Homo sapiens: one gene and its partner. Changing the gene in region 2 together with the main gene of any one other region gives a genetic interaction. Each region holds a gene or a part of one and is shown on either strand. Other genes may lie near its edges. The genes, in order: NOLC1 and CEBPB.

Region 1 (14,346 bases), on a different chromosome or scaffold from region 2:
ACTGCAACCTCCGCCTTCCGGTTTCAAGCGATTCTCCTGTCTCAGTTTCCTGAGTAGCTGGGATTACAGGCGCCTGCCACCACACCTGGCTAATTTTTTGTATTTTTAGTAGAGACGAGGTTTCACTATGTTGACCAGGCTGGTCTCGAACTCCTGACCTCGTGATCTGCCTGCCTCGGCCTCCCAAAGTGCTGGGATTACAGGTGTGAGCCACCACACCGGGCCAAGCCAAGTATTTTCTTGCTTGTACCCTTAGGGGTGCTACTCTGACCTTCAGTTTGGGACAGAACTCAGCTCAGTGCACAGAAACCATTCCCATGCCTGACTTTCCCCATTAGACACTGAGCTCTCTGGGAGTTCTATGACGAGTACATAGCAGGTTCACAAAGACTATTGAATACAGGTAGCTCCATGTTTGGACATACAGAGACCTGTGTTCTTGTCTCAATGTGCCACTAAGTTGCAGTTTCATCAACCCTAAGTAAATCATTTGATACTCAGGGCTGTTTCCGTAGTGGTTTTCAACTAGGGGCAATTTTCCTTCCCAGAAAATATTTGGCAATGCCTGGAGCCGTTTTTGGTTGTCACAACTAGGGGAAACTATTGGCATGCAGTGTTAGAGGCCAGGGACGCTGCCACACATCCTACAACACACAGGACAGTCCTCAAAAGCAAAGACTTACCTGGCCCCAAATGGAATGATCTACTCGATACCCACCTAACAGGGTTGCAGTAAGGCTACACCGGGCGAAGGGCAAGCCCCCAACAGGGCATTAGGAAGTCTCCTGCCTGTGTCCATGAAGCATGATGCAGAGGGGCATGAGCCATGTGTCTGGTTGACTGAATTTGCGGATTTCAGTGCCAGAGCCCATCAGCAAGGGGTAGGAATTCCAGATTCTTCACAAAACTAAGAAGTTTCTAATAGGACCAATTCCACATATCCATTTTTGTATCAGGAATAAAGATGATAAACGTGAAACAACAAAAAACCATTGCAGGGAAATAATCATTAACATATGCTTGATGCCTTTGCCAAAATGGCATGTTGCACATCACAAGGAAACCAAAGAACATCATTTCCAAAGCTTTTTTTGTTGAGCAAGAGGCAGTTATGGAGTGCTTATAATATGCCAGGGACTGTACTAAGTGCTTTAAATTCTCAGTCCTTACAACAAGCCTCTGAGAGAGTCAAGAATCTACAAATGAGTTGAGATAGTATTCTCTCTTTTTTTGAGACAGAGCCTTGCTCTGTCACCCAGCCTGGAGTGCAGTGGTGCGATCTCAGCTCACTGCAAGTAGCCAGGATAGTCTCGATCTCCTGACCTCGTGATCCACCCGCCTTGGACTCCCAAAGTGCTGGGATTACAGGCCCAGCCAGTATTCTCATTTTACATCAGAAGGTACACTCTGGGCTGGGCACAGTGGCTCACGCCTGTAATCCCAGCACTTTGGGAGGCTGAGGTGGGAGGATTGTTTGAGAGTAGCCTGGGCAACACAGGGAGACCCTGTCTCTACAAAACAAAATTAAAAACAAAAACAAAAACAAAACAAACAAAAAAACAACTAGCCAAGCCTAGTGACTACTGTAGTCCCAGCTACTCAGGAGGCTGAGGTGGGAGGATCTCAGCTACTCAGGGGGCTGAGATCAGAGTATCTGCTTGAGCCCCAGAGGCTGAGGCTGCAGTGAGCGGTGATCGTAATCGCACCACTGCACTCCAGCCTGTGCAACAGAGCAAGACCCTGTCTCAAAAACAAACAAACAAACAAACAAACGCAGACTCAGGTTAACCTTCCTAATGAATACTGTTAGGCAATTTGCTAAACCGCCTCATTTGTGTAACACACTAGCTGCAAAACGTAGCAGACTCAGCTTTGCAAGGCCTAAGAGGAAATGAGTTCTGTCGGAAAAAAGCAAACAAGACTGAGAAGGGTTATACAATACAGAAGAAAAGTCATGATTTAAACAATAAACAGCAACCTCACAAATTATTTATGTTTTAAGGAGAATAAATTAATGGATGTATGTCATATTCAACTTAAAAATGAAAACGGGCTGGGCGCGGTGGCTCCCGTCTGTAATCCCAACACTTGTGGGAGGCCAAGGCAGGCAGATAGCTTGAGCTCAGTTCGAGACCAGCCTGGGCAACATGACAAAACCCTGTCTACAAAAAACACAAAAATTAGCCAAGTGTGGTGGCACATACCTGTGGTCCCAGCTATTCGGAAGGCTAAGATGAGAGGATTGCTTGAGCCTGGGAGGTGGAGGTTGTAGTGAGCCAAGTTTGCACCACTGTACTCCAGCCTGGGTGACAGAGCAAGACCCTGTCTCAAAATAAATAAAATAAAAATGCCAAGGCCAGGCGTGGTAGCTCACACCTGTAATCCCAGCACTTTGGGAGGCCGAGGTGGGCAGATCACGAGGTCAGGAGTTCAAGACCAGCCTGGCCAAGATGGTGAAATCCCGTCTCTACTAAAAATACAAAAATTAGCCAGGCATGGTGGCAGGTGCCTATAATCCCAGCTACTCAGGAGGCTGAGGCAGAGAATTGCTTGAACCTGGGAGGCGGATGTTGCAGTAAGCTGAGATCACGCCACTGCACTCCAGTCTGGGCGAAAGTGGTATAGACGTACAATGGAATATCATGCAGTCTTAAAAAGGAAGGGAATCCTGTCACCTGCTATAACATGGATGAACCTTGAGGACATTGGCTTGGCTAAGTAAAATAAGCCAGCTACAAAAAGATAATATCATTACTGTTCCACTCATGAGGTTATATCTAAAGTAGCCAAAATCATAAAAACAAAGTAGAAAGATGGTTGCCAAGGGCTGGGGAGGAGGGGATATTAGTGTTTAATGAATATAGTTTCAATTTTACAAGATGAAAACGTCCTAGGTATCTGTTACACAGTGGAATATACTTAACACTACTAAACCATACAATTAAAAATGGTTAGTGGTAAATTTAATGTCGTGTTTTACCACTATAAAACAAAAACAAACAAAAATGAGAGAGCATTTTCATTTATCCAAGTAGCAAAGATCAATTTGGTAAATAGTGTTGGCAAGAGGGCAAAGAGGCACTTTGATAAAATGTTGCTGGAACTATACGATTAGTAGAACGATTTTGGAGGGCAATAATGATCAAAATGTTATTAATAAATGCAAATATCCTTTGAACCAGCCATCATTTTTAGGAATATTTCCTACATAAAAACACACAGATACTCAGTCTCATGTATAAGACTACCCAGTGTAACACTATTTGTAATAGCAAAATACTTAAACTTCTGCCCCTAAAGTACTAATTTAAATAACTTAAAACAGAGTACCATATAGCCATTAAAAATGAGCTGCTGTGTTCTGCTATGAATTGAGCTCTGAAAGTTGCAAAACATTGCACTTGACGAACTGCCCCATTTGTGCCAAGAAAAAAAGGAGGGGAGGATGCATATAGTAGCACATACCTAGAAACTGTCTGGAAGGAGACACAGAAGCAGGTTCCAGGAAACAGGGCTGAGATGAAATTTTTTTTTTTTTTTTTTAAATTTTTGAGACAGCGTCTCACTGTGTCGCCAGGCTGGAGTGCAGTGGCACGATCTCAGCTCACTGCAACCTCCACCTCCAGGGTTCAAGCAATTCTCCTGCCTCAGCCTCCCGAGTAGCTGGGATTACAGGCACGTGCCACCACGCCCAGCTAATTTTTGTATTTTTTAGTAGAGACGGGGTTTCACCATGTTGACCAGGCTGGTCTCGAACTACTGACCTCAGGTGATCCGTCTGCCTTGGCCTCCCAAAGTGCTGGTATTACATGCGTAAGCCACTGTACCTGGCCTGAAATTTTCATTTTATACTATTATTTTTAACAAGTATATTTGAAAATGGAAGCATGAAGGTGGGAAATACCAATTCACTTCTTTTCAAATACTCTTTAGATAAGCGGTTTTCAACTCTACCTGTTCATTAGAATCATCTGGGAGCTTTAAAAATACCCTAGTGCCCGGGCCTCACCAGACAGCACCAGGGTCTGACTCAATAGATCTCAGGATGGGCCCCTGAGTATCCGTGTTTCTTTTTATTTTTTATATTATACTAGGGTAAGTTCTAGGGTACATGTGCACAATGTGCAGGTTTGTTACATATGTATACATGTGCCATGTTGGTTTGCTGCACCCATTAACTGTCATTTACATTAGGTATATCTATCTCCTAATGCTATCCCTTCCCTCCCCCCACCCCACATTAGGCCCTGGTGTGTGATGTTCCCCACCCTGTGTGCAAGTGTTCTCATTGTTCAATTCCCACCTATGAGTGAGAACATGCGGTGTTTGGTTTTCTGTCTTTGTGATAGTTTGCTGAGAATGATGGTTTCCAGCTTCATCCATGTCCCTACAAAGGACACGAACTCATCCTTTTTTATGGCTGTAGTATTCCATGGGGTGTATGTGCCACATTTTCTTAATCCAGTCTATCATTGATGGACATTTGGGTTGGTTCCAAGTCTTTGCTATTGTGAATAGTGCCACAATAAACATACGTGTGCATGTGTCTTTATAGCAGCATGATTTATAATCCTTTGGGTATATACTCAGCAATGGGATTGCTGGGTCAAATGGTATTTCTAGTTCTAGATCCCTGAGGAATCGCCACACTGTCTACCACAATGGTTGAACTAGTTTACAGTCCAACCAACAGTATAAAAGTGTTCCTATTTCTCCACATCCTCTCCAGCACCTGTTCTTTCCTGACTTTTTAATGATCGCCATTCTAACTGGTGTGAGATGGTATCTCATTGTGGTTTTGATTTGCGAGTATCCGTGCTTCTAAGTTCCTCAGATGATTCTAATTTTCAGCTGATGTCTTAGGAATCGCTGATTTAGACCAGGGATTGGCAAACTTCTTCTGTAAAGGGCCGCATCCTAAATATCTTAGGCTTTGTGGGCCATTGATAAGATCTCTGTCACACATTCTCTTTTTAAAAGACCTTTACAAATGTAAAAACCATTCTTAGCTCCTAGGTAATACAAAAACAAACCATGGGCTGGATTTGACCCATAGGCCATTTTGCCAACCCCCAATTTGGACTATGCGTAGGCTAGAATATAGCCTGGAAAAGGCACCGTGAGACAAGCTGCTGCCAAAAAGCCTCTGCAGTGAAATCACAGGTCTGGACCCCAGTCCTATAACTGGCACCAAAGTTGTTCTGGTTTGAGTAGGGGGTGGGAGGGGTTTAGACTCACAATAATAAAACTCCCAAGACACATTATAAACCAGCCAGTTTATTATTTTGTAGTAAGATTTAGAACTTTTACCATGCAGACTGAAATATCTGTGTCAGCATGAACAGTACATTTTCTTCCTAGAGGCAGTTACATGGAAAACCAGGTTATTATCAGGTTATTTAGCAAGTATGGAATCCAAACAAGAGGAGACTAATCTTAAGACCTATAACTCGTCCATGAAGGCTTGGGGCACACTTTTCTACCACCAGAATGCCTTAGCTTCCAGAAAGCTGTGGACTCTTCCCTCTCCGTCTTGGTCTGGCTGAGTACCGCTACTGCTCAGTCACTTCCTGCAGCCATACCGTCAGGCCAGCTTGGCCTAAAAGCTGTTATCTCTGGTCACTGGTTTGTGTTGTTACAGCCACTGCTACTAACAGTTAAGGTTCTGAAGGGGGCATGTCAATTGCTCCCAGGTACCAACTAGGAGACACAATAATCCTATTAGTTTGTTCTCCCAAACCCACTCCAGTTTATCAGGTAATATGCTCTGTAAGGTTCTTTCCAACCCCATTAGCACATACATAGATTACCTATAATTTCACCTAATGTAATCTACCTTCCTACTGAGGATTGAGGTTTTAACGTTTGTTTTTTTTCCCCCCACTTTCTTGATCAGTGATTCTCAACCATGTAGGAATTAATGAAACCAATTCTGTATCACCACTGCAACCAAGACAGCAATACCAAGTGATATGTATTTTTCAAACTCATGTCATTTTGTTCTCTATACTGTAAAAAACGAGAAGATGCAGTCCTCAACTTAGAACTCAATACTAGGAAGGGTCAAGTTGTCAAAAAATGTCTTTCAACAGTAGAAAAGTTTGCTTTCAAATTAAAAAACAAAGCACGTATTGCAAACATCGTGTAATGATAAAATTACAGAAAAAAATATATTCAGAATGACCCATGGCATTCACGCCATACCAGAATTTTGCCTGTAACAAAACAGAGAATTTTATCCCAAAAAGTAGGTTAGGTCCATGCTGGCTAAAAACTTCAGTCCCAGACCCAATAAATGAGGATGAAATACATAGTGCATGCTTAACAGACATTGCATATACATCAACAATTCTTTAATGCCCCTCTCTAGGGTTTTGAGGGAAGGAGGGATGAAATGTGGACATGTGCACTCACAAAGGCAGAATTTTCTTCCTATTATAAAAAGTCACACGTGACCCTTTACTATGTTTTGGGCAATAGCCAAGATTTTATCTGTGGGAATCCACCTTTGAAAATCACAACAAAAATCAATAGTAAGTGATTTAATATAAAATATACAAATTTCTCAGTATGAGGACTTTCACAGAAAAGGAAGGAGACAACAATGAAAATGAATTTTCTTAAAAAATAACATTCCCTTATTTTGTCCCTGCTACTCAACACTCAAAAACAAGTCTGTACAAAACTAGGAACACAGAAAAGGACCAGAGAGGATGTTACACTGTAAAGTCTTAGGACCTACTCTAAACTTCTGTCCTCATCAAGACCCTCACCTAGAGACCTGAGGGTTCCCAGGTCCACTGGAGAAAGTAAGTAGTCTCCGATCATCACCCTTGCTTCACCGAAGATGGCCTCAGGTCACTCGCTGTCAAACTTAATAGAATTGACCTGGACAGAGATTGAGCCTCCCCGGTAGCTGCCCCGCTTCTTCTTGGTTTTCTCATGCCGAAAGGACTTGCCTTTGGTGAACTTCAAAACCTGATTGGCTCGCTCTCCCCAGTCTCCGGCTGCACCTCGCTGGTAAGTAGAGAGGGAGATTAACACAGAGGAGGACCATGCTGGAGCCCTGTCACTTTATTCTTTCTACTCCCTGCTCAAGGAAACCTGAACCCAGAGAAGATTCCCACCAACCTGAACCAAGAATTGTCCTCTCTGACACTACCCATCCTCCCTCCCAAGAATGGCACAGATCTCTCTCTCACCTTGGCATCAAAGGAGTTGTCCGCAACTCGTGAATCCACCTCAATTTCCTCCTCCCTGACCCTTCGGAATGGGGATGATGCCCTTTTTTCTCCCTACAGAAGAATGAAGTAGGAAATTAAAGACAGAGTGGTCATGTAACAGTTCTCCTGAGTGATACACATGGGCACATGTACCAGGTCACGCCAGGCAGAGCTGTCAAGATGATCCTAGATTTTTCTACTTTTAAAGAGCTGGCTCCTGAGAAGAAAGTGAGACAACTTACTTTCTTCCTTTTTGGAAATGTGTTAGGGGTCTGAAGCTTTATCTTCTTGGCCTGAGGAGTCTCTGCCTCCTTGGCAGCCTCATTCTGCTTCCGCTTCTTTAATGAACCTACAAAACAAAAAGCCAGACTCAGGCCGAGTACAGTGGCTCACAACTGTAACCCCAGCATTTTGGGAGTCCAAGGTAGGAGGATCGCTTGAGCCCAGGAAATTCAGATCAGCCTGGGCAATATAGTGAGATTCTGTCTCTATAAAAAGTTAAAAAAATGAGCCAGACATGGTGGTGCATGCTTGTAGTCCCGGCTACTCAGGAGGCTGGGGTGGAAAGATCACCTGAGTCCATGAGGTTAAGGCTGCACAAGCCGTGATCATGCCATTGCACCCTGGTCTGGGTGACACAGTGAGACTCTAATAAAAAAAAAAAAAGGTAACCAGTTTCCTGTTCTTCCTCCCAGTTTCCACAACTGGAAGCCCAGTGGTGGGCCTCCTCTCACTACCCTACTCTCAAAGAGTATATCCCATCCTGATTTGGGGGGACAAAACCCAGAGGGCATGTTCATTGGGTACAGACCTGATTTGGAAACTACCACTGCCGCCTTTTTCTTTTCTTCTTCCTCCTCCTCACTGTTCTTAGCTGCTTTTCCATTCTGGGCAGTCAGTGCAGAGGTGCCATTGGCCTTGGGGGCTTGTGGTCTTGGAGAGCCCTTGCCCTTGAGCTTCTCTTCCTCTTCCTCACTGGAGTCATCAGAAGAAGAACTGTTGCTGCTCTCAGCCTTTCCTTTCTTTGCAGAGGCTGGCTTGGAAGGGGCTGCACCTCCTGCTACCTTCTGTGGCTTCTTCTTAACTGCAGACTTAGATGTCTTCTCTTCCTCCTCCTCACTGCTGGAGCTGTCTGAATCAGAGCTGCTGTCCCTACTACCCTGAGGAGCCTGCTTGGCAGGCAGAGATAGAGCTGCTTTGGCAGTCGCCTTGGGCTTAGTGGTGGCCACCATCTTCTTTGTCTTCTCCTCCTCACTGGAGCTGCTCTCTTCCTCACTGGAGCTGCTGTCAGCCTTTCTCGTCAGAAGCTTCTGGCCACCGCCCACAGGTTGCTTGGGGGCTGCAGCTGGCTTCACTGCAGGTGACTTGGTGGTGACAGCTGGCTTATTTGAAGAATTCTTGGTGGTACCAGCTGGCTTAGAAGGAGCTTCATCATCCTCAGAGCTGTCAGAGTCTAGACACAGAAGGGATGGAATCAACAGCTCCCCAAATTGGATTCAGGGGAGCCCTTAGCAGCTGCCTGAGAGCATCTCACTGAACTGAGGGCCTCCATATGCCTTACCTGAGCTGTCTGAAGAGCTCTCTGCTGCTTTCTTTGCTGGAGGTGGTTTAGTGGTTGCTTTAGAGACTACTGCCTTAGTTGGGGGTTTCTTCTCTTCTTCAGAACTTGAATCTGAGGAGAACCTGTAGCATTATGCTGGGTCCAGAGTCCCAACCCAACCAGGACAGCAATAAAAAGAATGCAAAGACACGCACAGAGCCTTAGCTCTGTCTTGCTTTAAGCAAAAAGCAACCGAAGGATGGAAGGCTTTCTCTCTCCCTTATTCCTCATCCCCTCCTCCAGACCCACGCTGAGGGGAGGCTGCATCCCTCTGACTCACCAGACTCATCACTGCTGTCTTCACTGCTTTCCACAGGCTGCTGCTTCTCCACAGCCTTCTTGGGAGGCTGGGTTCCCAGAGACTTCTTTGGTGGGGGAGCAGAAGGCGGGGGGACTGAACTGTAGGGACCTGTTTAAAAAGGATAGTGTGATGGTTTTAGGATATGTCTACAACTTTTTTTGATACTACTTTCTTGTAGAAATGAAGCTTAATTCCCCTTCACTTGAGTATGGGCCAGAATCAATGACTCAGTTCTAACAGAACATGGTGTCACCTCTGAGTCTAGGTTACACAAGGCACTGGAGATTTCTCCTTGCTTTCCTGGATCACTAGTGCTCGGAGAAGCTAGCTGTCATGTCATGAGGACGCTCATGCACCTCTATGGAGAGGTCCATGTGGTTACTGCAGCTGGGCCCTGACCACAGTCACACAGCTTCGCTCCCCATGTCCAGTCACCTGGTTTATTTTTCATGGGTTTTTTTTGCTCCTCTTCCTCGTCACTGGAGGAATCCTCACTGCTAGAACTCTTCCGGGTAGGGGTGGTAGCTGCTTTCACTGGGGCCTTGGCCACAACTTGCTTTTTAGGTACAGTCTGCATTAGAAAGAAAATTGATTACCACAGGAAAATGCTGACCCAACCAATCCTGCCAGGGAAGGAAGACACACACACATCACACCCTGGTCACCTCTGCCCTGACAGAAGTTATGGTCCAGACCTTCTTGGGGGTGGCTGCTGCCTTCTCCTCCTCTGAGTCATCACTGCTACTGCTGCTGCTGCTGCTACTGCTGCTACTGGCTGCTTTACCATTGGCTATTTTAGGTGCTGCTCGAGCTGGAATACCCAAGAAAAAGAAAGAGTAAGGAGTATTAGGGCAAGTCAGGACCATGAAAAACCTCCTTCCTATGAGCAGAGAACTTAGGAGTCCACCATTTTTTTTTTTTTTTTTTTTTTTTTTTTTGGAGACGGAGTCTGGCTCTGGCTCTGTTGCACAGGCTAGTGTGCAGTGGTTCAGGCAACTCTCCCGCCTCAGCCTCTGGAGTAGCTGGGATTACAGGTGCCCACCACCATGCCCAGCTAATTTTTATATTTTTAGTAGACACAGGGTTTCGCCATGTTGGCCAGGCTGGTCTTGAACTCCTGACCTCAAGCAATCCGCCCGCCTCAGCCTCCCAAAGTGCTGGGATTATAGGTGTGAGCCACTGTGCCTGGCCAGGAGTCCACCAATTCTTTCAACTTTAGAGCAGCCATCGAGGAGAATGCCAGCCATGGTTTACCACATCAAAGGATACCTTTCCTATCCCATGGCAGGAATAAAACTGTCTTCTTAGAAAAGATGACATAAATAATCTCAATACGCCCTCTAAAATCTTTCACTTCAACCTCCATTCAGAGAAATAACCTAACCCTCATCACAAGTTACAGAAAAAAAGAAAAATTCTCATTTGTCTCATAGAATGAACATACAAGAGTAAAAATGGCAGTGAAAAGCACAACAAATAGATATTTAAGTGATTACAGTGGAATGGGATGTGTGAAAACATAAAATGTCTATGAAATGTCACAAAATACCAAATGGATACCATTAAAAAAAATACACATTTTTTCTTGCTGCAATAACTTTCTCTATTTACTAGCTCCTATGAAATCTTGTTATTTATTAGTAAAACCTTTAAAATTAAAAGACCAGTAATCAACACCTCCAGTTCAACAAACAGTACCATTTCACCCCTGTGCCAAATCGGCAATTTTAACTCCAGTCCCCAGAGCAATCTGGTCCCCAGCCCAGCCTCTTGGGAACAGAAACAGTACCTGGTTTGGGAGGGGCTTTAGTCTGAGCTTTAACTGTCACAGGTGTTATCTTTGGCTTCTGGTTCTTTGGTGGCTCATCCTCGGAGCTTGAGTCAGAATCAGAATCAGAGCTCTTGGCCTTCTTAGGAGGAGCTTTGGCTGCCTTGGCTTGGGGCTTAACTCCCTTCTGTTAGAAAAGACACAAGGAGAGAAATCAGCAAAAGCTTCCGGGTACCCAAAGGGCATCCTAGGTTCCTTTTATTTTTAGGGGCCTAATGGAGCAGTAAGAGCAAAAGAAAGCTAAGGACAGGATACGGAAAGGGCAAAAAACAACAAAGTTCAGCCACTTGATACACTGGCCCTGTTCCTGCCTTATCCTGCCAAAGCTCCCAGGAAAACACTCTCTCTTATTCTTGGAGCCCTGAATAGTGTCCCAGAAGAACCCAAACTCCTCAAGCAGAATGGGTTTAATTTCCTCTAGATTCGGAGCCTGACCTCAACCTCACACATCCCTTCCAGACCTCATACTTTTATCAGCTCCCTGAAAATCCCCAGATTTTCTTCCTCATAATCACCTATTGTATTGCCGCCATCACCCCTTGGTTACAAGCTAGAGGCCAAGATTTTAGGTTTCTTCCTTTCTAATCCTTAAACCCCTTTTTCTTCCCAAAGCTGCAAACCTGGACAGGCTGTTTCTTTTGGTCCTCCTCATCATCATCATCACTGGACTCTTCACTGCTGCTACTCTCTGATGCTTTGGCTGCAGCCTTCCCAGGAGGCAGACCGACTCGCTTGGCAGGTACAGCTGAACAAACACACAGGTCCCAGTAAGAATCAGCCATGTGAAACAAGCAGGCTGTAAATTCTTTTCCTGGCACCACCAAGCCCACCTGCTACTCTGCCTTACCAGCCTTCTTTGCTGGAGGCCCTTGAACTTCCTCCTCCTCCTCGCTGCTGTCCTCACTGTCACTGGATGAGGCCTTCTTCTTAGCTTTCTTAGCCACTGGTCCATTTGCCTGTAACTTTCGCTCTGGGACCTTGGCAGACCTGCTGAGGTAGATTGGACCAATTTCTAGGGGACTGGAATCTTCCCAAACCAAGAAACACAGCCCAGCCTATCTTGGGGGAGAAAATAGCCAAAATGGAACAGGAAAGGCTTACTTGAGCCAGAAGCTATAGATGTCTAAGAGGGAAGAGGCATTGGCATCCTGCTGTGTCTGTAGAAGAAAAAGAGCTGGGTAAGGAAATTATTTTATCCTGGTTATGCTTTCATTAAATGTGGCCTGTTACATACATAATTACTAAATTTGGTATAAATGTTACATCTTCATAAAACTTTTGCTACGTGCATAAATCAGGAGAAAAATATTCTATTTGTGGATTTCCCAATTTCTGATGTAAAAAACGGGCTACTCCTATGTTTGCGGCACCATCTAACCATCTAACCCCCTGCCTGCCAATCTATATTGATCAAAGTCCTAAAACAAAACAAAACAAAAAATCAGCCAGTCACGGTGGCTCATGCTTGTAATCCCAGCACTTTGGGAGGCCGAGGCAGGCAGATCAAGAGGTCAGGAGTTCAAGACCAGCCTGGCCAACATGGTGAAACCCCATCTCTACTAAAACAAAAATTAGCCCAGCATGATGGCAGATGTCTGTAGTCCCAGCTACTTGGGAGGCTGAAGCAGGAGAATTGCTTGAACCTAGAAGGCTGAAGCAGGAGAATCACTTGAACCTAGGAGATCGCGCCACTGCACTCCAGCCTGAGCAACAAGAGCAAGACTCCATTTCAAAAAAAAAAAAAAATCACTTTTGACTGGGCACAGTGGCTTATGCCTGTTATCTCATGTTATCTCAGCACTTTGGGAAGCTGAGACAGGAGGATCACTGGATGCCAGGAGTTCAAGACCAGCCTAAGCAACATAGCAAGACCCCCATCTCTACCCCTCTGCCAAAAAAAAGGCTCTCTCTTTACTCTAGCAATGTACTATCTAAGAATGTAATCTTATCCATTACTTGAGGGTACAAACACTAATACAAGAAGGTTTTTCCTGCAATGTGGATTATAATACCAAATCATTAGAAATAAGCCTCCAGGCGGGATGCAGTGGCTCACGCCTATAATCCCAACACTCTGGGAGGCCAAGGCGGGCAGATCGCCTGAGGCCAGGAGTTCAAGACCAGCCTGGCCAACATGGAGAAACCCTGTCTCTTAGCCGGGTGTGGTGGCAGGCGCCTGTAATCCCAGGTACTCGGGAGGCTGAGGCAGAAGAATCGTTTGAACCCCAGAGGCGGAGGGTGCAGTAAGCTGAGATCGCGCCACTGCACTCCAGCCTGTGCGACAGACCAAGACTCTGTCTCAAAAAAAAAAAGAAAGAAACAAGACTAGTAAGTACTGTATTGAATGTAAAGAACTGCATTTAAGGGCCAGGCACGGTGGCTCAGGTCTGCTGTAATCCCAGCACTATGGGAGGTCGAGGTAGGCAGATCATGATGTCAGGAGTTTGAGACCAGCCTGGCCAACATGGTGAAACCCCATTTCTACCAGAAACACAAAAAATTAACTGGGCATGGTGGTGCACACCTGTAATCCCAGCTACTCAGGAGGCTGAGGCAGGAGAATCGCTTTAACCCAGGAGGCTGAGGTTGCAGTGAGCCAGTATCACACCATTGTACTCCAGCCTGGGCGACAGAGTAAGTCTCAAAAAAAAAAAAAAATGCATTCAGGCCGGGCGCAGGTACGCTAACACTTTGGCAGGCCAAGGCAGGAGGATCACTTAAGGACAGGAGTTCAAGACCAGCCTGGGCAAGACAGTGAGACCTCCATCTCTCTCTCTCTCTCTTTTTTTTTTTTTGAAATGGAATTTCGCTCTTGGTCGCCCAGGTTGGATTGCAATGGCACTGCGGTTGCTTGGCCTGTGGTGGCTAAACGCCTGTAATCCCAACACTTTGTGAGGCTGAGGCGGGTGGATCATCTGAGATCGGGAGTTCGAGACCAGCCTGACCAACATGGAGAAACCCCGTCTCTACTAAAAATACAAAATTAGCTGGGCGTGGTGGCGCATGCCTGTAATAATCCCAGCTACTCAGGAGGCTAAGGCAGGAGAATCGCTTGAACCCAGGAGGTGGAGGTTGTGGTGAGCCGAGATTGCACCATTGCACTCCAGCCTGGGCAACAAGAGCGAAACTGTCACAAAAAAAAAAAAAAAAAAATTAGCCAGGTGTGGTGGTACATGTCTGTAGTCCTAGCTACCCCAGTGACTGAGGCAGGAGGATTGCCTGAGCCCAGGAGTTCGATGCTACAGCGAAGTATGATTGCATCACTTTACTCCAGCCTGGGCGACAGAGTGAGACCCTCTAAAAGAAACAAACAAACACAAAACAATACACAGAAGAGTACAGGATCAGGCCAGGTGCAGTGGCTCACGGGCCTGTAATCCCAACACTTTGGGAG
Region 2 (14,660 bases):
AATAAGGCATGCAGGACACCAGCAGGTGCAAAGTGAGCATCCAGTAAACTGCAGCCCACCATACTCCTGACTCCCTGGGCTCAGGGGTCTCTGCTCAGATGCCACTTCCTAGGAGGGGCCTCGCAGGACCGCTCCCACTCACCTCTGCCCCACTTTCCTTCCTGCAGAGCCCTTGACTCCATCTGCCATTATCTTGTTCCAGTCACTGGATACTTAGCATCTGTGTCTCCCTGAAAATTATCACCTCCATCTTGGCCACCACATGTCCCCAACACCCAGTAAGGGGCCTAGCACACAGCGGGTGCTCAATAAATGTTTGTCAAATAAATGAAAAATATAACTGGGCAAAAAAACGACTGAGAAACTGGGAGAAAACAGTCTCAGAGAGGTCTGGACAAAACTTGGAAGGCAGGGGAATATTCTTTTTTTTTTTTTTTGAGACAGAGGCACGCTCGCTCTGTCGCCCAGGTTGGAGTGCAGTGGTGCGACCTTGGCTCACTGCAACCTCCGCCTCTGTGATTCAAGTGATACTCATGTCTCAGCCTCCTGAGTAGCTGGGACTACAGGCACCCACCGCCACACTAGGCTAATTTTTGTATTTTTTTAGTAGAGACCATTTTGCCCGGGGTTGGTCTCAAACTCCTGACCTCAAATGATCTGCCGTCCTCAGCCTCCCAAAATGTTGGAATTACAGGCGTGAGCCACCTCGCCCAGCCTGCAGGGAAATATTCTTCAGGTGTTCAGAAGGAGCAGTTCCCCTTCTCACTCCCACTCCAGCTTCTGCCATTCTTAGCTGTGCAAACTTAAGACAGGTCAGTTCACCTCTCTAAGCTGGTTTGCACAGCAGCAAAATGCTAGTAACAAAAGCTGCAGCCTCCAAAAGGCTAATGAGTTGATTAAACCAAGGAGCACAGTGTCAGTGTGGAACCGGCACCCAGCAGTGTCTCGAGCGTTCATTTCTGACATCCACTTATCTCCTTGCTAAAATCACCAGGCCGTGGGACAATTGCATAAGATTATGAGGTGTGAATGTGTCTTGTTTTGTGAACTCTCTTGTCCTGAGCAAACATTAGTTGGGGTTCCAGGCTCCCACCTCCCAGCTAGCCTCAGTGGTCAAACACACTAAATGGGTCTGTGGTTAACATGACCGGCTTTCTCCCACATATCTAAGGACCCAGCACCTCCCTCTGTGCCAAGGGCTTGGAGTGGTGCTTTGCACATCTAAGCCCTTGTCTCACACCTGCTATTATCATGATTCCTCAAGGCTCGTCCCTGGCCTCCTGGGCTCGCCTCACCCCATCCCACCCCCTCCTGTTTCTGGATGTCGGAATGGACTGGTTCCTCCCTGCGAGCCCTTCACCCTTGCAGCTTGGTGAACTGTGGGGTTGGTGTTGCCCTAACTATGACATCTCCCCAAGTCCTTTGGGCACAGCTCCGTCCACAGTGCTCCCATACCAAGCCACCGTCAAAGCCCTCAACCTGTGAACTGCTTCTCCCAGCCCTCCTTAGAGGCAGCCCAAGGGGTTCAGGTTCAAATTCACTTTCTGTTGCTTCCAAACTGTGAAACTGATGTTTGCAGTTCTGGGGCTTGGAGTGCCTGAACTTGAGGTCAGGCAAGGAGCCCTCCAAGAAGAGCCTGGGATTTTAAACAGGAACTGGGATTACAAACCAGGCTCCCAGCCCCAAACTTTCCCCATAGACTTGGGAGTCGGATGGTTTTGTAACCTGCTCCACCTAGCCCACCTTGAGCACAAACCTCACTTCTGTGGACCTCAATGTGTGCTTTTAGAAATGGGTCTAGCACCTTCTGTGGGGTACTGTGGATGAGAGCAAGATGTGAGTGTGTGAAGAACTGACTCAACGCTGGTTCCAGGACAGCACTGGGGAAACAGAAGCGAAGCTGTGGGGCAGACGGGGGCGGAAGAGGGGCACCGTCTGGCCAGGCTGCTTCCCTCTCACCTCATTTGGGTGAGCAGTGGCCACCAGCCAACTCTTGGTGACAAAGGAGGGAGCAGGGATTTGAGATTTGTTCCTCAATTTCGACCCTCTCCACCTCCCTCCTTCCCTAGGTCCAGCCCCTCAGCCTCTGCCTTCAGCAAGTAAATCCTTGAGGTCAAGCCCACATTGCTGTCGCTGCTACTGACAGAAACCATCGAGACCAGTGGGGCTTGGGACTGAACTGACTTCGAGGCTTTGAAGGCATGCCCGGCCAGTTGTCCAGTTGCCCAGGGCTGGGAGGGGACGTGGTCAGGGCCACGCTGCAGGTCCCAGGTTGAAGTGAGGTTATCTGTGTCCAGCAATCTGCATAGCCCTCGAGCCACCATCAGGAGACACTGGCATTAGGGAGGTGGAGCTTATAGGAATCCTCCGCTTTGTGGCGGTGGGGGATGAGTGTCGCTGTCTGTTCCCCACATCCCAGGCTCCCACAGGGAAAGCACAACCAGGCCCCCAAAAGGAAAAGGAGGGGCAAAGCATTTCCCATTCGCGAACCACGGTATCAGCAACTGCTCCTGAGATCCCAGACCGCCCCAGGTCCTTGGCAAACCAGGCTACGATGCCTGCTGCCCCTGAATTCCTCAGGGCAGGGCAACCCCCAACCAGTGTCTTGCCCATAGGGATCGGACAGCCCAAAGCTGCTCCCCACCTCTAAAAACAGGCGTCATAACAATCCCCACCTTCCCAAAGGTTATTGTGAGGTCTAAATGGGATGGGGCAGGTCCAGTGTTTACCAGATGCCGGCCCCTGGCAAGTACTGGCCACACTGGCGCTGCACTGGAGACTGGGGTGCCAAATGCCAGCAGCTTCCCAGCAAAAAATAATAACAAGAGCAAGCGCTTATATAACACTTCTTGCGTGCCAGGCACTGTGGGACGCTGTACATGTATCCACTCACATCCATCTACATCCTCAACTCTCAGGAATGCCATCCAGGGCTGGATGGGAGTAGGGGGTGCGGTGAGAAGCCGGAAGGGGCAAAGGGATCAGTGGGCAGGGAAGAGGAGCCTGTCCCAGGGAATCAGGGCTAGCAGCCCCACGTTTGTGCCTGGGCTCAGCCACCTTGAGCAGGCAGGTGAGGTGGGCTCAGTGTCCAAGTCTGGGCAAAGAGAGCAAGTGATGAGCCTCCCATCCTCAGGAAAGGTAATCAAAGTGTGGGAACCCCTCCCCCACCTCTCTCCACCTGGCCTGGCCTCTCCCCTCCTGCTGGCCAGGGACACACAAACACAGACTCGCCCACACACCCAGGCTCCCCTCTTTAAAATACACATGTATACACAAACTGTGTTTTAAACAACCCACCCCACTACACTGACCAAAAGCATCTGCCCTGACTCGGGCTCAGCAGGACCAAGACCTGAACCCCCTCCTCCTACAGTCACAGGCCTGCCTACCTAGTCCCCAAACACAGGGCAGGGGTCACAGACCTCCCAGCCCTTCCAAACCCAAGCCTGACACTCGGGACCAGCCAGAGGCTCCGGAATCTCTTCTCAAGCAGGGTTCCCAGCCACCCGTCCCGGCGCCTAGGGGCTCTGAGTCAGCCTGAATGCCTGACCCATTACTCTTCTCCCCTTTCCCCCGGGGCTGGAACCCCATCTCAAGCAGACCCTGTGTGTGTGGGAGGGGGAGTAGCAGAGGAGGCAGAAAAACCAGCTGCAACACCCCCACCCAACCACCAAAACCTCCAAAAATAACAGCAGCCCCCCACACACAACCCCCTACACACCAGAAACGCAAAAACAAAATCCTACAAATCCAAAATAAAGTAAAAAAATAAAAAACAAAAGCCAATTACTGCCCCCAAAAGGCTTTGTAACCATTCTCAAAAAAAAGTTTATTAAAAGTGTTCTTAATGCTTGAAACGGAAAAGATTCCCAAAATATACAGACGCCTCTTTTCTCATAGAAATAGATTATTTTTTATAATACAAAAAAAGACCAAAAAACAAAACAAAACAAAACATCAACAGCAACAAGCCCGTAGGAACATCTTTAAGCGATTACTCAGGGCCCGGCTGACAGTTACACGTGGGTTGCGTCAGTCCCGTGTACACACGCGTTCAGCCATGTTTAAACCGATTGCATCAACTTCGAAACCGGCCCGCCCGCCGGCGCCTGGAGAGGGGCAGAGGGAGAAGCAGAGAGTTTATCATTCATCTGTACACATAGACGTTTCTTCTTTAAATAACACCACGGGCGGGAGCCCCATCTGCATGTGCGGTTGGTTTGGACAAAAATATAGATATATATATATAATAAAATATTAAAATTACCGACGGGCTCCCCGCGCTGCCAAGTGCCCCAGTGCCAAAGTTTTGCCGGCGCCGCCGGGGGCGGGGGCGAGGGCGCGGGCGCGGGCGCTCCCCGGAGTCTCAGCCCCGGCCGGCAGGGGGACGCGCGCGGGGGCCGCGCTAGCAGTGGCCGGAGGAGGCGAGCAGGGGCTCGGGCAGCTGCTTGAACAAGTTCCGCAGGGTGCTGAGCTCGCGCGACAGCTGCTCCACCTTCTTCTGCAGCCGCTCGTTCTCGGCCGTGAGCTCCAGGACCTTGTGCTGCGTCTCCAGGTTGCGCATCTTGGCCTTGTCGCGGCTCTTGCGCACGGCGATGTTGTTGCGCTCGCGCCGGATCTTGTACTCGTCGCTGTGCTTGTCCACGGTCTTCTTGGCCTTGCTCTTGACCTGCGAGGGCGCCGGCGCGGCCCCCGCGTAGCAGGCGGTCGGGGGCGCCTTGGCGTCAGCGGGGCTCGGCGTGCCGGGCGGGCTGGACGAGGAGGACGTGGAGAGGCTCCCGCTGCTGCCGCTCGGCACCGCCTGGTAGCCGAGGTAAGCGCGCAGCGCGTACGGGAAGCCCGCCGCCATGCCTGCGCCGCCGCCCGGCGCCCCGGCCTCCTCCTTCCGCTTGCAGTCCGCGGGCTCGAAGCCCGGCTCCGCCTTGAGCTCGGCGGGCGGCGGCGGCGGCGGGGGCGGTGGGTGCAGGGGCGCGAAGCAGCCGGGGTGCAGCGCGCCCTTGGCGGCCCCCAGGCGCCCCAGGCTCACGTAGCCGTACTCGGCCGGCTTCTTGCAGTTCTTGCCCCCGTAGTCGTCGGAGAAGAGGTCGGAGAGGAAGTCGTGGTGCTGCCCGGAGGAGGCGGGCGCGGGGGCGGGCGCGGGCGGAGCCGCCTCGAAGGTGTCCGTGGCCGTGGCGGGCGCCGGGGCCTGCGGCGCGCCCAGCGGCTCCAGGTACGGGCTGAAGTCGATGGCGCGCTCGTGGTCGCCGATGCTGCCCAGCTCGCCGGCGGGGGGGCGCGGCCCGGGTCTGGCCGCGGGGGGCGCCGCGGGGGCCGCCTTGCCGCCGTACGCAGCAGCCAAGCAGTCCGCCTCGTAGTAGAAGTTGGCCACTTCCATGGATTTAAAGGCAGGCGGCGGCGGCGGCAGGGGGAGACATGCTGGGTCCCAGGCCACCAGGCGTTGCATGAACGCGGGTGCCCGGGGAGGGGGCCTGGGGCTGCCCGCTCCGGCCGGCCCGCAGGTGGCGCGGCCTCCCTGCTCTGAGCTGTCGCCGCTGCGTCGCTGCTGCTGCTGCCGCCGCTGCCGGGGTGGCCGCTATTAGTGAGGGGGCTGGTGGCTGGACCCTCGGGTGGGTCCCCTTCCCAGTCCCGTGCGCGGCTCTGACTCGCTAAAGTTTCTCCTGAGCCCGGTTATTTATAAGGGCGGCCCGTAGCAACCGCTGCGTCACGCCGGCCCCTCCCGCCGCGCCGCCGGGACGCGAAGGACACGGCCGCGGCCGCCCGAGACCCCCGGGAGGACGGCGGCAGGGCGCAGCGGAGGGACCGGGCACCCGGAGCGCGTTTTCGGGGGGCCCCCGGGACGCAGGGGCGGCCTCACGCCCCCTGCCCACCCCCGCCCGGCCGCCCCGGGATTGGGAGCGAGAGGGGGCGGTGCGACCCCGCCCCCGGACCGCCCCTCTGGGCTGGAGGCTGTCCTGGAAGGCGGGGGAATCGGAGGAGGGGGCGACCTGATCGCCTTCCCCCCGAGACGCGGCCCCGGCCCGCCCCCTGCTGGAGGAGGCGGAGGTTTCAGGAGGGCCGAGCAGAGCCCCGACGGCCGACCAGGGTCGGCTCCCCGGGCCGAACCCTGGAGACCCCAGCCCGCAGCTCTAGCTCCAGGAGAAGCGACCCATCTCCGTGGCCCTTCCTCCCGTAAACTCCCACCTCCTCCCCAGGTCCCCGGCTTTAGAAAGAAGACTTGACGCCTGTGACGACTCCCCTCTTAAGCCACAGACAATATGAGGACCCCGGGGGTCGGCGCGACCGGGCAGGATCGCGCCCCGCTTGGGGCTGGACCCTGGTCCACGGAGCCCCGCCCCTAGCCCCGCCCACCACACCTGCCGCCTGCTCGAGGCTTGGACACGCCCGGGTCTTCTCTTGCCCCGCGCTGCGCCACCCGACCTGGGCCCTGGGATGGGGCAGGGGCGGGGGGTGCTCGGCCCTGCCACACTGTGTGACCTTGGGTGAGTCACTTCACTTCTCCCAGCTGCAATCCATGAAGGGTGTCGCTACTGTCAGTGGTGGTGGCATTGTTCCCACCAGACTCCCAAACCTAAGGCTTACGTTGTGGGCTGCACATCAGAGAGAACGGGACCCCCACGGATTGTGCCAGTGGAGGCCCAGAGAGAGCATGGCGTGGCATACCAAGGTCACATGGCCGCATGTCCCCCATTCATCCCAAATGAAATGCCCTCATCTGAGCCCTAAGACCTATTGCCAGTCCCAGAGGCCAAAAACTTCTGTTTCTGAAGTTGCTAGGGAGGGACTTAAGCGAGGCCTCACGGGAGGGGGTGGTATGCAGGAAAGAGAAGGAAAGAGAAAGATAAGTTTTTACCAAGTCCCTGCCCTGTGCTTACGGTGGGCCTGCACCCCGAGGTTCAACTTTTTTCACCCCACCAGGAAGATGCTTTTGCTGCTGCCATTTCACAGACGGGAAAGCGACAACGGCCCGCCTGGACTTGAACACAGGCCCAAGGCCTTCTGACCACTTGCCCGCCTCTGCTGGGTAGGCTCAGGTTAGAGGGCCCTTTGCCCTCCCGGACCCATTCCTAGGCCATTGGGGCAGCTCCCTGGGCCCACCTCTCTGCCACTCCTAGCCCAGGCCACCTAGGCAGGAGCTCCCAGCCTGCCCGGGGCTGATCCCCAGCCCACTGACCCCAGCCCTGGCCCCAGCGGGCAGGCGGGCATTGCTCAACCTTTGGTGTTATCTGCTGAGCTGGGGTGACCTCCGCCCCCAAGAGCTGGAGAAATGACATCTCTGGGCACCCTTGGTGGGTAGGAGGCAGGGAGGGAGGGGATAAAACACTGGCCCAGCCTGCTGGCTTTCTGGGTCTTCCCAGCAGCCTCTGGGTTGGGGAGGGATCAAGGCCCAGAGGGGTGCGGCAGCTTCCCTAGGGCCACCCGGCCAGCCCTTCCTCACTGCAAAATGGGACACTCAGGGCTGAGCTAGAGGCCACGGCTTCTGAGAGGCCCTCCCTGTCCCACCTGCTAGTGAATTTCCTTCCCTATCGCCAGCCACCATTATCCTAGCTGTCTACCTCAGTCTCCCTGCAGGCTGCCACTTGGGGAGGGCTGGCCCACGAGGGACTCCTGAGCACAGCACGCTCAACATTTACCAGTGAAGGAATGCATTTGCTGTTCCCTGTGCACCAAGAACACTGTCACCCCACCTCTGCCCAAGGCAGCTCCTCAGGTCTCAGCCCAAAAGCTGCCTCCTCCGGGAAACCCTCCCTGACCTTCCCATGGGAAGTCTAGGCCCTCAGTCACTCCTCTCACACCCCTGCTTCATTTCCGTCACCATTCTCATTATAATCAGAATTATCTTGCCTGCCAGTCTTGCTGTCTGTCCCCACGGCCTTCACTACTGTGTCCCTGGTGCCTAGAACAGAGCCTGGTACATAGAAGGTGCTCGATGAATGGTGAGTGAATAAATGGAGGAGGCTGAGAAGAAGGAGAGGTTCCTCGTTAGCTGGGCTGTGTGACCTTAGGCAAAATGGCTCCCCTCTCTGAACCAAAGCACTCGCCCACGTTCCCTTTCTGGATTCTGAAGAGATGCAGGGAGATATGGGGGAACTGAAGCTAATTGGAGGATTTGCTGTGTGTTCTTAGGCCAAACTTCCACCTTCTCTGAACCACATTCCAAGCTCTTTGCATGTATTAACTCATTTAATCCTACTGATAATTTGTAGGAGGCAGGTCTTTTTTCTTCTTCTTTTTTCATATTTTTCAATGTTTTGTAGAGATGGATATGTCTCACTCTGTTGCTCAGGCTTTTCTCGAACGCCTGGCCTCAAGTGGCCCTCTTGCCTCAGCCTCCCAAAGTGCTGAGATTACAGGTGTGAGCCGCTGCGCCAGGCCACAGTCTTATCATTATCTCCACTTTATAGATGAGGAAACTGAGGCCCAGAAGAGCTAAGTGTGTCTGCTCCAGGTCACATGAAAGGATGAGAAGGAATAAAATCTTTCCAGTCTGACTTTCCCTCTTGGGTTTGTCATAACAGGCCTGGCAATGTGAGTCCCATCTTCTGGATAGAAGAACTGAGGCACAGAGAAGGGTAGACCTGGGGTCACACAGTGCGTTAAGGTGTTACTCGGACCTTGCAGGCCAGCCCCCAAAGACCAGACTCAGCCCCAGCAGGGGTCTAGGCCCTCTGGCCTCTGGGGTGGAACATGCTTGCCACCCTTCCCCACCCTCCACCCCCTGCTGGGGATGACCCATCCCTTCTCAGCGCAGGTCCCACCCCGGTGCCGACCCAGGTGTCCTGCAGGGAAGCTGCAAGCTAGGATGACGTAAGCCCTTGTTTTTACAAGGCTCTTGCTCAACAGGCCCCGCCTGCTGCTCCCCCACCCCCACCCCAGTACTGTTCAGCCTTTCCCCAAGAAGTGGGGATGGTGGGAGCTTGAACCACCACGGCCCAGAGGCCCAGAGTACGTGAGTGGCTGTGTGGGCACAGGAAACCAGGATCCCCCTGGCGCCACCTCTCCCAGTCACCTGCCCTCAGAACCTAGAGCCGGAAAGGATCTCAAACTGGCAGCCAGTGGCCAAATCGAGACCACAGATGTGTTCAATTTGACCCCATAGCGTTTTGCTTGATGTGTGTGTGTTTAAGTGAATTTATTGCCAACATTTAAAAATCAGGAGATTTCACATCAAAATTCAAATTTCCAGCTCCTCTTTTAAAACCTGAAGCTGTGGGCTGGGCCCACGTGGCCACATGGTGGTGGGCAGGAGCCAGGCGGGGGCGGGGAGGGAACAGGCACTTTCCTACCTGGGACACACGTCCTCCTCTGCCCCCAAACTGCTTTTCACAATTCCTCCTCCCCATCTCTGCAGCTTTTCCCTATCCCATTTTCAAGAGGAGAAAACTGAGGCGATTTGCCAAGGGGAGATCCACGTGGCTGCTTTGACAGAGAGTGTTCTGCAAAAGGGCTTAGAAATCAGCCAGCAGGTGGGAAAATATGGCGGAGAGGTGAACCATCAGAACATGAATGGGGGGGTGTCTCTAGTGGGCGTGGGGCAGGGGGATGGCAGGGGGATGGCCTTTCATGCTGCCCTGTGCCTTCCATGCTGTGGCTCTCCGGCCGTGTCTGGTGTCCCCTCTGGGCCTCAGTCCCTGGTATATAAAATGAGGTGATAATATTCTATCTGGGATTCTGGGCCTGCTGTTACCCCTCACTGCTGGCCTTCCCCGACACATTAGAGTTAATCAGATGTCCCTTTCACCCCACAAAGCAGGCAGATGGGGAAACTGAGGCCCGAAGAGGATTAGAACTTCCTACTTCCCCCTCCAAATCCCCCTTGTACCCTTGTGAATGGGTACAAGAGCCAGACTTAAAAGCCAGATTCCCTGATTCCAATGTTTGAGATTTTCCCCATCATGCCTCCTCTCTGAGGCCTCAGTTTCCCCATCTGCCAAGTGGGGCTGGCAGAGATAGATCCCCAAGGGCTGCCAGGCTCCGAGGTTCTGAGATCCAGGATTTTGGAGACGGGAGGTGCTCAGGACCGGTAGTGAAACTTGCCTGAGTATATACTGCCCCCAGGTGGCAGGTTCTGGGACTGCAGGAGCCATTCACATGCGTGAAGATCCGCTGGGCGCCCTTGCTCTGGGATCAGGAAAGGCCGGTGCCATGGATGTGATAGATGCACACAGGGCATCAGCAGGCCGCCGAGAGGAACCAGAGTGTCCAACGAACAGAAAACAGTGCTCAACCTTCACATTTATCGAATGTTCCTTGGCACATGCTGTAATTCTGGCCCTAAAGACACATTCATGGACAAGACAAGCAATTCCTGTTCTCGTGGAGCTGAAATTCTCCTGGGGGAAGACAAGCACTAAACAAGATCAATGATTAAAGTATAGATTGTATTAGATTCTGGTCAGCACTATGGAGGAAAATACAGCAGGGGAGCAGAGCAGGAGTTCTGGGAGATTTGATTTTTTGTTTTCTGGGGTTTTTTGTTTGTTTGTTTTTTGAGACAGGGTCTCACTGCTGGAGTGCAGTGGCACGATCTCTGCTCACTGCAGCCTCTGCTTCTTGGGCTCAGGTGATCCTCCCACCTCAACCTCCCAAGTAGCTGGGACCACAGGGGCATGCCACCACACCCAGCTGATTTTTTAATGTTTTGTAGAGATCAGGTCTCATTATATTGCCCAAGCTGGGGGAGTTGATTTTAACTTTATGTTAGAGTAGTCAGGGAAGACCTCACTGAGGTGACATTTAAGCAAAAACCTGAATGTGGTGAAGCAGGTATCTGGGGGACCTTGGACCACACAAAGGGAACAGCAAGTGCAAAGGCCCTGAGGTAGGAGCACGTAGTTGTGGTGATGACGGAGAGTAGCAGGAATTTGTGTCATAGAAATAGTGGGGGCTGGCCAGGCACAGCGGCTCATGCCTGCAATCCTAGCACTTTGGGAGGCCGAGGTGGGTGGATTACTTGAGGTCAGGAGTCTGAGACCAGCCTGGCCAACATGGTGAAACCCCATCTCTACTAAAAATTAAAAAAAAAAAAATGGCCAGGCATGGTGGCGTGCATCTGTAATCCCAGCTATTCAGGAGGCTGAGACATGAGAATCACTTGAACCCGGGAGGCGGAGGTTGCAGTGAGCCGAAATTGTGCCTCTGCACTCCAACCTGGGTGACAAAGCAAGACTCTGCCTCCAAAAAAAAAAAAATGGAACATGGAAACATGGAATGGGAGAAAATATTTGCAAATCATATATCTGATAAGGGGTTCATATCCAGAATACATAAAGAACTGTTACAACTCAACAGCAATAAAAACAACTCAATTAAAAATGGGCAAAGGACTTGAATAAACATTTCTCCAGAGAAAACTGTGAATGGCTAATAATCACATGATAAGATACTCAACATCACTAACCATTAAGGAAATACAAACCAAAACTGCAATGAGGCGCAACACTTTGGTGGATCACCTGAGGTCAAGAGTTGGAGACCAGCCTGGCCGACACGGTGAAACCCCGTCTCTACTAAAAATACAAAAATTAGCTGGGCGTGATGGTACGTGCGTATAGTCCCAGCTACTTGGGAGGCTGAGGCAGGAGAATCACTTGAACCTGGGAGGTGGAGGTTGCAGCAAGCCAAGATCACGCCACTGCACCCCAGCCTGGGCAACTGAGTGAGACTCCATCTAAAAAACAAACAAAACGCAATGAGAAGAGAGGATTTTGAATGTTCCCGACACAAAGAAATGATAAACGCTTGAGGTAATGGATATCCTAATTACCCAGATTTGATTATTACACGTTGTATACATGTATTGAAATATCATTTTGTAACCCATGAACATGTACAATTATGTGTCAACTAAAAATAAAAGGAATAAAACACAATGAGATACCACCTTACGCCCATTAGGCTGGCTGCTGCGTTGGGAAGGATGTGTAGAAACTGGAATGCTTGTGTAGCTACTGTGGGAAATGGTATGGCTGTTCCTCAAAAAATTAAAAATAGAATTACCAAATGACCCAGCAATTTTATTTCTGGGTGTGTATCCAAACGAATTGAAAGCAAGATCTTGAAGAGATATTTGTACACTCACGTTCATAGCAGCCTTCTTCACAATAGCCAAAAGGTGGAAGCAATTAGCTGGGTGTGGTGGCGGGTGCCTGTAATCCCTGCTACTTGGGAGGCTGAGACAGGAGAATCGCTTGAACCTGGGAGGTAGAGGTTGCAGTGAGCTGAGATCGCACCACTGCACTCCAGCCTAGGTGACAGAGCAAGACGCCGACTTAAAAAAAAAAAAAAAAAAAAAAAAAGAGGTGGAAGCCACCCGTGTCCATCGATGGACGAATGGACAAAATGTGATGTGTCTGTACAATAGAATGTTATTTAGCCTTAAAAAGTAAGGAGATTCTGACACAGGCTACAACACGGATGAACCTTAAGGATATTGTGCTAAGTGAAATAAGCCAGTCACAAAAGGACAAATACTGCATGATACCACTTACATGAAGTGCCTTGAGTAGTCAGATTCATAAAGACAGAAAATAGAACAGTGGTTGCCAGGAGCTGAGGTAGGAGGAAGTTCTTGTTTAATGGATATAGAGTTCCATCTTTGGGAAGATGGAAAGAGTTCTGGAGATGGATGGTGGTGACGATTACCCAACAGCGTGAATGTCCTTAATGGCACCAAACTGTGCACTTAAAATGGTTAATATGGTAAGTTTTATGTTCTGCGTATTTTACAATTTGAAAAAAAAGGCCAACGTGGGCCAGGCGCAGTGGTTCACACCTGTAATCCCAGCACTTTGGGAGGCCGAGGCAGGAGGATCCCTTGAGCCCAGGAGTTCAAGACCAGCCTGGGCAATACAGTAAGATCTCTTTTTTTTTTTTTTTTTTTTTTTTTTTTTGAGACGGAGTCTCGCTCTGTCGCCCAGGCTGGAGTGCAGTGGCGCGATCTCGGCTCACTGCAAGCTCCGCCTTCCTGGTTCACGCCATTCTGCCTCAGCCTCCCAAGTAGCTGGGACTACAGGCGCCCGCCACTGCGCCCAGCTAATTTTTTGTATTTTTAGTAGAGACGGAGTTTCACCGTGGTCTCGATCTCCTGACCTCCTGATCCACCCGCCTCGGCCTCCCAAAGTGCTGGGATTACAGGCATGAGCCACCACGCCCGGCCTCTCATTTCTAACAAACAAACAAAAGATGGATCTTCACCTGTGGACAGAGAAAGATGTCCACTGGCATTGTGACTTGAGAGGCAACAGGCAGGGCAGGGGCCTGGTAAAGTCACGTTTGTCTTGAAAACCTTTGCCATTAGCTAAAACGTTTTTAAAATGTGAATGACACGCAGTGTTGATGGTGTGGAAAAACAGGCACTCTTACAGCTTCAGTCTTTGTGCGAAGTGGCGTAACCTCCAGTTCTAATCTGGCCATGCCCATCAAAATGGGAAATGTCGCAGCCATAAAAAATGAGAGTTCATGTCCTTTGTAGTGACATGGATGAAGCTGGAAACCATCATTCTCAGCAAACTATCGCAAGGACAAAAAAAACCAAACACGGCATATTCTCACTCATAGGTGGAAATTGAACAATGAGAACACATGGACACAGGAAGGGGAACATCACACACCGGGGCCTGTTGTGGGGTGGGGGAAGGGGGTAGGGATAGCATTTGGAGATATACCTAATGTTAAATGACGAGTTACTGGGTGCAGCACACCAACATGGCACATGTATACATATGTAACTAACCTGCACATTGTGCACATGTACCCTAAAACTTAAAGTATAATTTAAAAAATAATAAAACAAAATATAAAAAAAGGAAAAAAACAAAATGGGAAATGTCACTGGACCCAGAAATGCAAGGCATTTATGCCACCAAGACACTCACATTTGCTTAAAGAAAAATGGAGAACAGCAAATGCTTTGCAATAGCAAAAGCTTGTGAGGTAACGTCAGTGGCTGTCATTACCAAAGAACACTAAGAAGAATGAGGTAGCTCCATGGGAGAGGACTTAGACCAGCACTGTCCAAGAGAACCTTCTAGAATGATGGACATGTTCTCTATCTGGGTTGTATCATACGGCAGCTATCAGCCATGTGTGTCTATTGAATTCCTGAAATGTGGCTAGTGTACTTGAGGAACTGAATTTTTAATTTTATTGAATTGTATTTAAATTTAAATTAAGGCTGGGTGCAGTGGCTCACACCTGTAATCCCAGCACTTTGGGAGGCCAAGGCGGGTGGATCATGAGGTCAGGAGTTCAAGACCAGCCTGGCCAAGATGGTGAAACCCCATCTCTACTAAAAAAAAAAACCCACAAAAATTAGCCAGGCACAGTGGCAGGTGCCTATAATCCCAGCTACTCAGGAGGCTGAGGCAAGAGAATCACTTGAACCCGGGCAGCAGAGGTTGCAGTGAGCCGAGATCATGCCACTGCACTCCAGCCTGGGCAACAGAGTGAGACTCCATCTTAAAAAAAAAAAAAAAAAAATTAGCCGGTCATGGTGGTGTGTGCCTGTAGTCCCAGCTACTTGGGAGGCTGAGGCAGGAGGAGTGCTCTACTTTTAAAAAATACATAAAAATTTAATCTTTTAAAATACATTTAAATCACCTCCTGGACTAGCGACTACTATATTGAACAGTACACATCTAGAACAATCTCCAAGATCTATC

Evidence for each region.
Region 1: of CEBPB (region 2) and NOLC1, changing one enhances a phenotype caused by changing the other (phenotypic enhancement), as found in Homo sapiens cells (one study listed by BioGRID).

What each region holds. Positions count from the first base shown.
Region 1 is NC_000010.11:102,154,782-102,169,127, reverse strand, and holds the end of NOLC1 (nucleolar and coiled-body phosphoprotein 1), read right to left. Parts: intron 12,110-14,346; coding exon 12,054-12,109; intron 11,943-12,053; coding exon of another isoform or gene 11,940-11,942; coding exon 11,800-11,939; intron 11,698-11,799; coding exon 11,573-11,697; intron 11,080-11,572; coding exon 10,914-11,079; intron 9,936-10,913; coding exon 9,820-9,935; coding exon of another isoform or gene 9,790-9,819; intron 9,696-9,789; coding exon 9,560-9,695; intron 9,233-9,559; coding exon 9,104-9,232; intron 8,896-9,103; coding exon 8,785-8,895; intron 8,677-8,784; coding exon 8,035-8,676; intron 7,573-8,034; coding exon 7,466-7,572; intron 7,296-7,465; coding exon 7,203-7,295; intron 7,018-7,202; coding exon 6,859-7,017; 3' UTR 5,258-6,858; downstream 1-5,257. UniProt on the Homo sapiens protein: Nucleolar protein that acts as a regulator of RNA polymerase I by connecting RNA polymerase I with enzymes responsible for ribosomal processing and modification.
Region 2 is NC_000020.11:50,181,817-50,196,476, reverse strand, and holds CEBPB (CCAAT/enhancer-binding protein beta), read right to left. Parts: upstream 5,648-14,660; 5' UTR 5,444-5,647; coding exon 4,406-5,443; 3' UTR 3,809-4,405; downstream 1-3,808. UniProt on the Homo sapiens protein: Important transcription factor regulating the expression of genes involved in immune and inflammatory responses. Also plays a significant role in adipogenesis, as well as in the gluconeogenic pathway, liver regeneration, and hematopoiesis.